Regions from separate parts of the Homo sapiens genome. Here regions 2, 3 and 4 are each linked to region 1. Evidence: fine-mapped expression QTL. A gene starts in region 1. Each other region holds a variant in brackets. All regions are shown on one strand. Distances are between the middles of the regions. Region 1 holds the start of CAND1 (cullin associated and neddylation dissociated 1). Region 2 overlaps LOC105369812 (a long non-coding RNA gene). Region 3 holds the start of LOC124902957 (a long non-coding RNA gene). Region 4 has its middle 24 kb from the start of CAND1.

What was found. PIP is the estimated chance that this variant, and not a neighbour inherited with it, causes the effect. A credible set is the group of variants that fine-mapping cannot tell apart.
Region 2: its variant is the best candidate, but not a certain one, in a credible set for the expression of CAND1 in aorta (GTEx, PIP 0.54).
Region 3: its variant is the best candidate, but not a certain one, in a credible set for the expression of CAND1 in stomach (GTEx, PIP 0.87).
Region 4: its variant is the best candidate, but not a certain one, in a credible set for the expression of CAND1 in whole blood (TOPMed, PIP 0.59).

Annotation. Positions count from the first base shown.
Region 1 is chr12:67,267,782-67,270,470 of GRCh38, forward strand. CAND1 (cullin associated and neddylation dissociated 1) reads left to right here and starts at 1,577. Exons shown (of 15, transcript NM_018448.5): 1 at 1,577-2,004. The coding sequence starts at 1,937. RefSeq lists enhancers at 713-1,012, 1,153-1,412, 1,692-2,343.
Region 2 is chr12:67,411,517-67,414,205 of GRCh38, forward strand. All of the region lies in intron 1 of LOC105369812 (a long non-coding RNA gene), which reads left to right. Among named protein-coding and RNA genes, the nearest start is that of LINC02420, 30 kb to the right of the region's middle. The variant C/T (reference allele first, on the strand shown) is at 1,271.
Region 3 is chr12:67,326,796-67,329,484 of GRCh38, forward strand. LOC124902957 (a long non-coding RNA gene) reads left to right here and starts at 1,726. Exons shown (of 2, transcript XR_007063354.1): 1 at 1,726-2,246. The variant G/A (reference allele first, on the strand shown) is at 1,437.
Region 4 is chr12:67,243,963-67,246,651 of GRCh38, forward strand. No RefSeq gene overlaps it. Among named protein-coding and RNA genes, the nearest start is that of CAND1, 24 kb to the right of the region's middle. The variant GA/G (reference allele first, on the strand shown) is at 1,615.

The DNA of each region.
Region 1 (2,689 bases):
TTTTTAGTAGAGATGGGGTTTCACCATATTGGCCAGGCTGGTCTCGAACTCCTGATGCCCTGATCTGCCCGCCTCGGCCTCCCAAAGTGGTGGGGTTACAGGCATGAGCCACCGCACCCGGCCTTTATATTACATACATTCAAGTAGAAGGATACATGAGAGCAGATCAGAGGTATGTGTGAAATTTAAACACATATTATGAGGCTAAACCAAGTTTCATCTGTTTTATTAACTCCTATTGCCTGACTTTGAAGTACTCAGTAATAGTTGATGAATACAGAAAACAATGGTAAAGGTCAGGTAGATTTGATCGGATTTGAGTTATGTGTTAGTAGAGAGCTATTTAAAGGTTTGTTGTTGTTTTTAACAGGAGTATCAAGTGAGATTGATTTTTCATCTCTTCACCAGGCTCTCTGTTCTTTTAGAAAGGCCTGTCAGCTAGCTCCATCCCTAACACTTTCAGGGATGTTGACCCCTAGCTGGCAAAACTTGTGTTTAAAATCCCAAATATTAAGCAGATGAAAAACTTGGATACTAAATACTTTCATAACTCATCTCCACGAATTTGTACGTCTGAGGGAGCAATACACAGCTGCAGGTCCATCAAGGCCACAAAAGCTAACTACAGAGATAGTCTTTTAGCTATTTTGAAATCAGTAGGGCCTGACTACAGCCATCTGTCGCATACCCATTACTCTTACTAAGGTCCTGCTGGCGTCAGAGAGGTGGTTCTACGATGCACGGTAGGAGTGTGTCTGGCCAGAGAAGTGGGGAGGCTCAGCTGCCTTGGGAGGTGCAAGTAGTAGCGCTAGGAAGCTGCTGCTAGGCCTCTGGCAAGAACACCAACTGATCCGCAATGCGCCTGGCCAAACTGCAGCAGCCTGCTCTGCAAATACTGCATAACAGAAAAAGCCTGTATTGGAGAATATAAGAATCCGCGGCAGAAACGGAGTGCGCGACGATTCTAAGGTTTTTACCCAGCACGGCTCCCCCATCAGACTGCAAATCCCAGCATTCACTCCTTCCACGGGAGCCAATGAGGAAGCTACTAGTTCCCGCAGCCAATCACATTCTGAGCCAGTGTATCACCCGACTGAATTCTGGGATTTGTGGTTTTTACGTGGCAACATTACACCACGGTGGCTACGGCAATGCAGGCCACGCGTCTGATCCCAAACGACACCTCCCTGTTATAAATTCTTATGTTGGTTCCGCAAGCTAACTCCTTAACTGTCGTTACTCCCAGGCTTCCTCCTTCTCAAAGCTCGTAATCTTTTTCTCTTAATGTCATTAAACAATCAAGTTATTTTCAGATTAAGGCCCACTTGCTCCACTCGTCCCCTGTCCCTTAACCGTCGCTTTAGAGTCTCGCGAGAACAGCCCCTTTTTTTTGTGTTGTCATGCCTCCAAAAGGCGGGTCACATGAAAACTGACACAGGCTTCAGCCAACCGAATTGTTTTTTAACTCTCTTCTCCACAGCGTGCGTGGGGAGGCCTCCGTGAACTCTGACCTTAGCTTTCCGTAGCGCCCGCGTCTGCCGCCCCCGCCCCCGGAGCGAAGGAGGCGGGCTTTGGCCTTTTGCCCTAGGGAGCGAGTGCGGAGCGAGTGGGAGCGAGACGGCCCTGAGTGGAAGTGTCTGGCTCCCCGTAGAGGCCCTTCTGTACGCCCCGCCGCCCATGAGCTCGTTCTCACGCGAACAGCGCCGTCGTTAGGCTGGCTCTGTAGCCTCGGCTTACCCCGGGACAGGCCCACGCCTCGCCAGGGAGGGGGCAGCCCGTCGAGGCGCCTCCCTAGTCAGCGTCGGCGTCGCGCTGCGACCCTGGAAGCGGGAGCCGCCGCGAGCGAGAGGAGGAGCTCCAGTGGCGGCGGCGGCGGCGGCAGCGGCAGCGGGCAGCAGCTCCAGCAGCGCCAGCAGGCGGGATCGAGGCCGTCAACATGGCGAGCGCCTCGTACCACATTTCCAATTTGCTGGAAAAAATGACATCCAGCGACAAGGACTTTAGGTGAGGCCGAGATCCGACCCTCACCCCACCTCGGGGTTCTCGCAGCCGCGGCCCTGGCCGTCACGCAGGCCTTGCCCCACCCCTTCGGCCGTAGCCGGTAGCTTCTCTGCCCCGAAGTCTCCAGCCCACCGGTCCGCTGGCCTCCCGATCCCTGCGGAGCCCCTTTCCTCTCCCCTCTTGCAACCCCCTCCCCCCATTCTTTCTCCTAGGCAGTTGCCCGCCGCGGTCTCTAGGCCCCGTTTGCTTGTCTCAGCGCCCCCACATCCTTCCCTGCCCCACCAGGAGGCGATTCTTGCGTCTCAGGTAGCGCGAAGGGGCTAAACCACCCACCATTGTGGAGAAGGGAGTTGCTCTAGGCCGGGAGACCGGGCGCCGGGCCTATTCGCTTGCCATCCTGCGGCGCTAGGCCGCCTTGCTCGCTGGGGCCCAAGCTGCTGCCCACTCGGGGACCCGGCAGCCTCCTCTCTGCCCGCAGGTGCGCGTGGGCCTTGCTGCATTCAGGTGGAATGATGAACTTTTGCGCTCTTGGCTGATACATAGTTCTTTTGTGGATTATTAATTTTCGTGAAGGTGGGAAGAAGGGGGAGGGGAGCCAGGATGGAGGAAACTTCGCTCATAGGGTTTTCCCGCCAGCATCACTGTCAGTTCCTCTTGTCAGGTAAAACCAACTTAGGAACTCGGGGTT
Region 2 (2,689 bases), 140 kb after region 1:
GAGTCTTGTGTAGGAGAAAGACAATAAGAAAAAAGTTCGCAAAAAATACATAAAATTACCAACTGTGATAGATGCTTTGGAAAGAAGGTACATGGTGCTGTGACTATATAACATGACAAAGTGACCTAGACCAGTGCATCTCTAACTATGTGTGCTGAAAGACCACTTTTCCCTTCAATCTGCCCTGGACTGATACTAGCATACAAATTGTGCTACATGTGACTGACCACGTGATTTTGACAACACCTGAATTGCTCTTTGCCCTGTTCAACAAGGGGAGTCTACTGACCATGTGCTTGGATGTCATGGTAATTTTAAAACACTGTAGAACTTTCTAAATGCTTATTTCTTAATTTTAATATTTATCACATTGGAAACAATTTGTAGATTGGCACCGAAGTATGGATTGCACTTTGAGCTGCTCCAACCTAGACTGTTGAATCAAGAAAGTCTTCCTGGAGGAAATGATTTTTGCATAGTGTTCTGTGATGAATCTGTGATCACTATGACCATCATAGATCACCGTGATCTATATTGAAGGGCAAATAGGCAAAATCGAGATGGGAAGGAGAATTCCAGGTAAAGAGAATCCAGGAGAAGAGGAGTGTGGCTGGAACATGCAGATGAGTGGAAGATTAGTGAAGATGAGTTTGAAGGGAAATGCCAGGCCAGGCCTATGTTATCTTTGTGTTTTCTCCATGGCAAGGGACAGGTTTTGGAAGTTTTTAAGCAGTGTGATTTTTATCAGATTCTAAGTGCTAAGATCACCTTGCTGCAGTATGGACAATACACTAGATGTTGTGTCAGTCTGTTTAGGCAGTTATAACAAAATACCACAGACTGGCTGGCTTATAGACAACATTTATTTCTTACAGTTCTGGAGGCTGTGAAGTCCAAGATCAAGGCACTGGCAAATTCGGTGTCTGGTGAGGGCTGGCTTTATGGTTCATAGATGTGGCCTTCTCGCTGCAACCTCAGGGCTCTCTTTGGGGCCTCTTTTATAAGGGCACTAATCCCAATCATGAGGGTGCCACTCTCACTACCTCATCACCTCCCAAAGGCCCCAATACTATCCTAATACTATCACCTTAAGGGTTAGAATTTCAACATATGAATTTTTGTGGGACACAAATATTCAGACCATAGCAGGAGAATAAAAGTGAAAGTAGGGAAACCAGTGAGTAGACTATTGCAGCAGTGGATGTGTAAGAAGTGGGAGATTGAGGCTGGGTACAGTGGCTCATGCCTATAATCCCAGCACTTTGGGAGG[C/T]GAAGGCAGGTGGGTTGCTTGAGCCCAGGAGTTAGAGACCAGCCTGGGCAACATGGAGAAACCCTGTGTCTACTACAAATACAAAAATTAGCCAGGCGTGATTGCACCTCCCTGTGGTCCCAGATGGTTGGGAGGCTGGGGTGGGAGGATCGCTTGAGCCCAGAAAGTCAAGGCTGCAGTGAGCTGAGGTTGCAGCACTGGAAGTGGGAGATTGAGATTGAGGACGTAGGGTAGGATTTCCGGTGGAATGGATACGGGGTTGAAGGAGTGGGAAAGATCAAAGAGGACTCTTCTGGTAGCTAATCATCCCAATATTCCACTCTAATGCAGACAAGGAATACTGCTCCCTTTCTGATCAGGACCAAAGGAGTCCCTTTATTCCTAAGGAAGTTTCCTGGCAGGGAATGGAAGTCCATTTCCCAAGTCCTTCAGAGGCTCTGCCAATACTTTTAGATGTGCTTCACAACTGCCAATCTTTCTCCAATTAACGTTCCATTTATGGAACTAAATGACTTCCCCTTTGAATATAAATTCTCCTCTATAACGTTTCCTCAGTTTTTTTCTTTAAAACCTTATTCTAGAAAATATTAATAGGCACTCAATGAAAAAGGAGTCTCATCAAAGAACATATTCAGGAAATACTGAGCTAAACAAGAGTCATACTGGTTTTTTCTTCAGTGCGTGACTTTTCAGAGCACTTAATATGTTAATGTGCATCTTCAGTTTCCAAGAGGGGAGAAACAAAATACAGCGTTTCCAGAACTTACTTAGTTATGGGTTCCTTTTTGCCAAGATCATCTACTAGGCTAGTGTTCTATGAAACCTTCTTTGGGAAAGGATGCTGCCTGGTGACTAGAGCAGTCCTGTGTTCAGCACTGGAAGCTTGGTTCTGCTTCACATATTTTGAGACAAGCAGATGTGTTCATTGGTTTGTCACAGGACAATCTAGTTCCATTCCCTAAGGCACTTTTACTGAAAGGCTGAGTCAGTTTTTTGCAATCAGGCACAACACTCCCTGTACCTGACTGAGCTTGCAATTCTAGCTCTGTGATGAGCGTCGCTGTTCTAGCTCTAAGTGTTGGCCTGGGGGCAGCATCCTGTGTCTGTCAGGGGGCAATGTGCCCCACTCAGGCAATACATGGGAAAGGAGGACCTGGAGTACTGCCGTGATGGACTTAAGTGACGTTGGTGTAAGAGCAGTCCATTTTCCATTTAAGCTGACTGGGAAACAGCAGCAGTTACAAATGACAGCTATGTCTGCAGAGGCTGACTTTCTCTTCATCCTCCCTTCTTTCTGGCTTTTGAGGGTAACCAGGGGAGCAGCAAAGAACAGTGTTTTCTTTATCTCGTAAATGGGTGTCATTCTTCAGCAGGTGTTACAGATCCGGGCCTCTCAGTCTTGAAGGTGCACGGGAATTC
Region 3 (2,689 bases), 59 kb after region 1:
GTAACTATGTAACTATCACCCTGGACAAGAAAAAGAACATCATCAGCATTTTTCTTGGTCATCTTTATTGTTGCTCCTCTTCTTGACTAAGATCTTGGGTCTTTTCTCTTTATCTACATTCACTCCCTAGGGGACTCATCAACTCAGCAGTATAGAATTAAATACCATCTATACTGACAACTCTCAATATCTCCAATCAGAACTTCTCACCTGAACTTAAGCCCTGTATATACAACTATAGCTACTTAACATCTCTACTTGGTTGTCTAAGTAGCTTCCCAAACTTGACAGATCCAGAACTGAACTCCTGACTCTCTACCTCATAAATTCTCTGCCTGTAGTGCTCTTCACTGTAGTAATAGCCTCATCCTTCCAGCTACTCAATCCAAAAGGCTGCAAGTCATTCTTGATTCCTCCTTTTCTTTCACAGACCATATACAATCTATTAGGAAATCCTGTTTGTTCTGCTTTCAAAATGTGTCTGTGGCTCTGATCCCCTCTCAGCATTTCTATACTACCAGTCTAGTGTAGTTTATCATAATCTCTGGCTTGCCTGGGTTGCTGTAATAGTCTCCCAACTATCCTTGATGCTTCCTCACTTGCTCTCCTCCAATCTAATCTCAAAAGAGCAATCAGTGGTCCTATAAGAAAGTAAATCTCATTACACCATTCCATAGCTCAAAAGCCTCCACTGGCCTTCCATTTAACTCAGAAAATGCCACACACCTTATTACATACAGCCTACATGGCCCTTCATGATATAATAACCCTCGTTGCTTCTCTCACTGCATCTCTAGCTACTTTATCCCTTGTTCACTCCGCTAAAGCTACCCTAGCCTCCTTGCTGTTGATTGATCATGCCAGGTGCATGACATTTACATTGGCTCTTCCTTCTGCCTGGAACACTGTCCCCAGAGTGCTGTGTCAATGCCAGATATCCACATGGCTCACTCCTTCTGCTTTTTCAAGTGTCTGCCTAAATGTCACCAATCCTGCCTTTCTCAATCTCTATTACCCTTTTGTTTCCATACAATAACATTTATCACCTTTAAATGTACAATATAACCTATGGATCATATGTTCCTTAACTGTCTCCTGGCATAGAACATAAGTTCCATGTGAGCAGGGATTTTGTCTGTTGATTTATTATCTCACTAATGTATAATAAGCACATGGTATATACATAAATGATTGAATAAATGAATAAATAACTTCCATATTTCAAGATATTCCAGGTGGTGGTGCCAAGCATGTAATGTTTGGAAATAATGATTTTTAGTGTCAGGAACATTGTGATAGCTCCACTTAAGGCTGCTGTTTTTACATGGAGAAATTTTTAATTATTAATTACTCTTTTGAATCAGTATTATAAGCATGGTAGAAAATTCAATATATTTTTAAAGGTATATATTAAAAAGCAAATATCGGCCGGGCGC[G/A]GTGGCTCACGGCTGTAATCACAGCACTTTGGGAGGCTGAGGCAGCCGGATCACTTGAGGTCAGGAATTCGAGACCAGCCTGGTCAACATGGTGAAATCCCATCTCTACTAAAAATACAAAAATTAGCCAGGCATGGTGGCACACGCCTGTAGTCCCAGCTGCTTGGGAGGCTGAGGCAGTAGAATCGCTTGAGCCCAGGAGGCGGAGGTTGCAGTGAACCGAGATCACGCCACAGCACTCCAGCCTAGGTGACAGAGTGAAACTTTGTCTCAAAAAAAAAAAAAAAAAAAAAAGCTCCTAGAGTCTCTTCTTTGAGGCATTGCTCTTAAGTTTCTTGTGTAGTATCCCACAAACTGTTTAAGCATATATGAACATATTTGTAGGCATTCTTTTTTTACCCAAATGGTAGCATACTGCCCCTGCCCCTTTTTTCTTCATTTAACAATATAGCTTGGAGAACCTTCCATGTTAGTGGAAATAAAAATGTTTCATTCTTTTAAAGTGCTCCTTAATATTCTGTTGTACAAATTTCTCATAATTTATGTAGGGAGTTCTATATTGAAGTTGTTTCCAACATATTACTATTTCAAACAATGCTACAATGAAGATTCTTGTACTATTGACATGAAGACATTTTGATGTGATCAAAACAAACCAAAAAGAATGAAAAGAAAACATTTTTATTTATTTATTTATTTTTATTTTAGATTCAGGGGGTACATGTGCAGGTGTGTCACATGGATATATTGCATGATGCTGTGAGCTTCACTTGAACCTGTCACCCGGGCAGTGAACATAGTATCCAATAGGTAATTTTTTGCCTTTTGTCCCCCTCCCTCCTCTCTCCTTTTGGAGTCACTGGTGTCTATTGTTCCCATCTTTATGTCCGTGTATAGCCAATGTTTGGCTCCCACTTATAAGTGAGCATATTTGGTTGGCTTAATTTGTTAATTTCCTTAGGATAATGGCCTCCAGCGGCGTCTGTGTTGCTGCAAAGGACATTATTTTGCTCTTTTTTATGGCTGTGTAGTATTCTATGGTGTATATGTACCACAGTTTCTTAATCCAACTCACTATTAATGGACACCTGAGTTTACCCTATGTCTTTGCTATTGTGAATAGTACTGTCATAAACATTTGAGTGCAGGTGTCTTTTTGGTAAAATGATTTATTTGCCTTTGGGAATATACCTACTAGTGTGATCACTAGGTCACATAGTAATTCATGGTAATTCTTTGTGGTTCTTTGAGAA
Region 4 (2,689 bases), 24 kb before region 1:
CAAAATAGTACTGGAGCCAAGGGATATGGAATACTTTTGCTCTTTTTTTTTTTAAATCTTCAATTGTGAAGCAAGTATAAAATCCAAATCTGACATATAATTGCATCTATTCTCTGATGGAAGATACAGTAAATGACATTGTGGATTTGGATTATTCCTGCTTTATAACTAACCCCGACATAGTGCCCAGAGTGCAAAAATCAAAGGGAACTGATTCTCCTTATGCAATATTGCAGGGTTGTAGTAGCCTTTTGACAAGGGTACTAGGTGATACTCACAGACCCAGAATGAGAAAATTCGGGTTCTCTTGGAACTGATACTGGCACTCTGGGATGTGTGAAAAAGTGGGACTGATGTTTTCAAATATATTTTGAAAATGTTTAACTGTGATGAGGATAGACTTCAAAATACTTCATAAAGAAATGGAATTAGAGAGGGACCTTTAAAGATGGGTAGGACTGCAGAAAAAGGAGCTCTGGCAGGGCCAGAAGAAAAAGGATACTTCTTGATTTTGCTTTCAGACCAATGTTTTCAAATATTTTAATTGCTTGCATACCCTTAACAGTTAAAAATAATTGAGTGCCTTCCCCAAGATATGATGTTTAATTTATTTGTAAATTGTAGACATATATTATCATTCTAACAAAGTATGTACACATACAAAATAGAATTAAAAAATAAATATAAACAAAAATTCATACATTTTCTTGCTAAACCTCAGTGGATAGTCTTGAGCAACCCCTGGAGTACACCTTCCATGTCCCCTTCTCTCTCTCTCTCTCACACACACACACACACACACACAGAGTGCACCACTGGTCTAGACTCAACTGGTACAAGTAGGCCTGGCCTTACTTTTAAAAACATGAGTCCCCTGACTGGCAACAATCTTAATGCATTTAACTTCTAGAAACATGATAAAGGAACATTTGAAAAAATCACTATGTTTATTCAGGAATAATGTTTCTAGAGAGATTGTGTCCAATGGTGAACAAGAATTTCCCTGGTATCTAAACTATTGGTTGCATTGTGAAGTATTATGCTTAAAACAGAATTAAACCCAGTTTGAGAGGAGTCAACAAAACAGACTTAAGTATTTGCAAGAATTTAATACAAGTTTAGTATAAAGTTTAAACTTTTATTGCATAAAGTGGGTATTATGTGTAAAAATTCCTTGATTATTTACTTTAAAAATCATTTTTGGTTAGCTCCGTAGAACAACTGAGTTTAAAAGTATGTATTTTGGCATATATTAGATTGTGTAACATTGTCACAACATATTCACTTGAGTATTTTATAAAATATAAGCAAAAAAGGCACATTTACATGTATCAATAAAAATGACATTTATATTAATTAAATGTTTAAGTCAAATAATCAGGCACAGATACTTTTAAATTAGGGGTTTACCAGCCTGGGCAACATGGGCAAGAGATGCTGCTCAACTCTACAAAAAAAAAAAAAAGTAGCTGGGCATGGTGGCACATGTCTATGGACCCAGCTACTCAGGAGGCTGCGGTGGGGGGATCACTTGAGCCTGGGAAGTCCAGGCTGCAGTGAGCAGTGTTTGTGCCACTGCACTCCAGCTTGGGCAGCAGAGTGAGACTCTGTCTC[GA/G]AAAAAAAAATTGGGGGTGTTTTATTTTAAAATCAAGAAATTTCCTTTTTTTTTTTTTCTGGCCCCACCAGGGCTCCTCTTTCTGCTCTCCTACCCATCCTTAAAAGTCCCTCTCTAATTCCATTTACTTATCAAGTATTTTAAGTCTATCCTCACCACAGTCAGACCTAGTCATTTATCTGCAGTTTACATATTGCACGTTGCGGCACTTTCCACCATCAGTCTGATAATAATAACAGCTACTTTGTCCAAGATCATAGTTTGTAAATGGTAGCTAAGAAGAGCTCCACTCTGTCTGACATCAAAGTCAATAGCCCTCTTCCATATTGCATTTTGTAAGTTATAACAACTAGACAGCGATCTGCAAAGGGTTGGGATAGTATCAATAGTATCATGACATCTAGCACAGCACTGTGTACAAAATGGGTAATCACAAATGTTAGTTAATTTGAAATGATAAATGCAAAACAGTTACTTTGTGGGTTTCTTTCTACATCACATATCATCAAGCAAAAACAGTTACTTTGAACATACATATTGAAATTATGTATATTAATATAAATTTAATAGGTCATTTTATTGGCCCTTAAAATTCATATGTTCTTTAAACATAGCTTTGTGTTTTTTTAAGGAAAGGAATATGGGAAGCAAACCAGTGGACTATAATAATGTGTTATTCTGAAGTAAAATATTAGAAAGCAAGATAATATAATACTATTTAAGTTGGAAAATTCCACTGAAAAGAAAATAATTTTTTTACAGTTTCACTGTGTTGCCCAGTCTGGAGTGCAGTGGTTTGATCTCAGCTCACTGCAACCTCCGCCTCCCAGGTTCCAGTGATTCTCCTGCCTCGGCCTCCTAAGTAGCTGAGACTACAGGTGTGCAGCACCATGCCAGGATAATTTTTGTATTTTTTAGTAGAGACGAGGTTTCACCATGCTGGCCAATCTGGTCCTGAACTCCTGGCCTCATGCGATCCGCCCACCTCGGCCTCCCAAAGTGCTGGGATTACAGGCATGAGCCACCATGCTGGGCTGAAAATAAATTCATCACCTGAGAGAAAATGTTCACTTT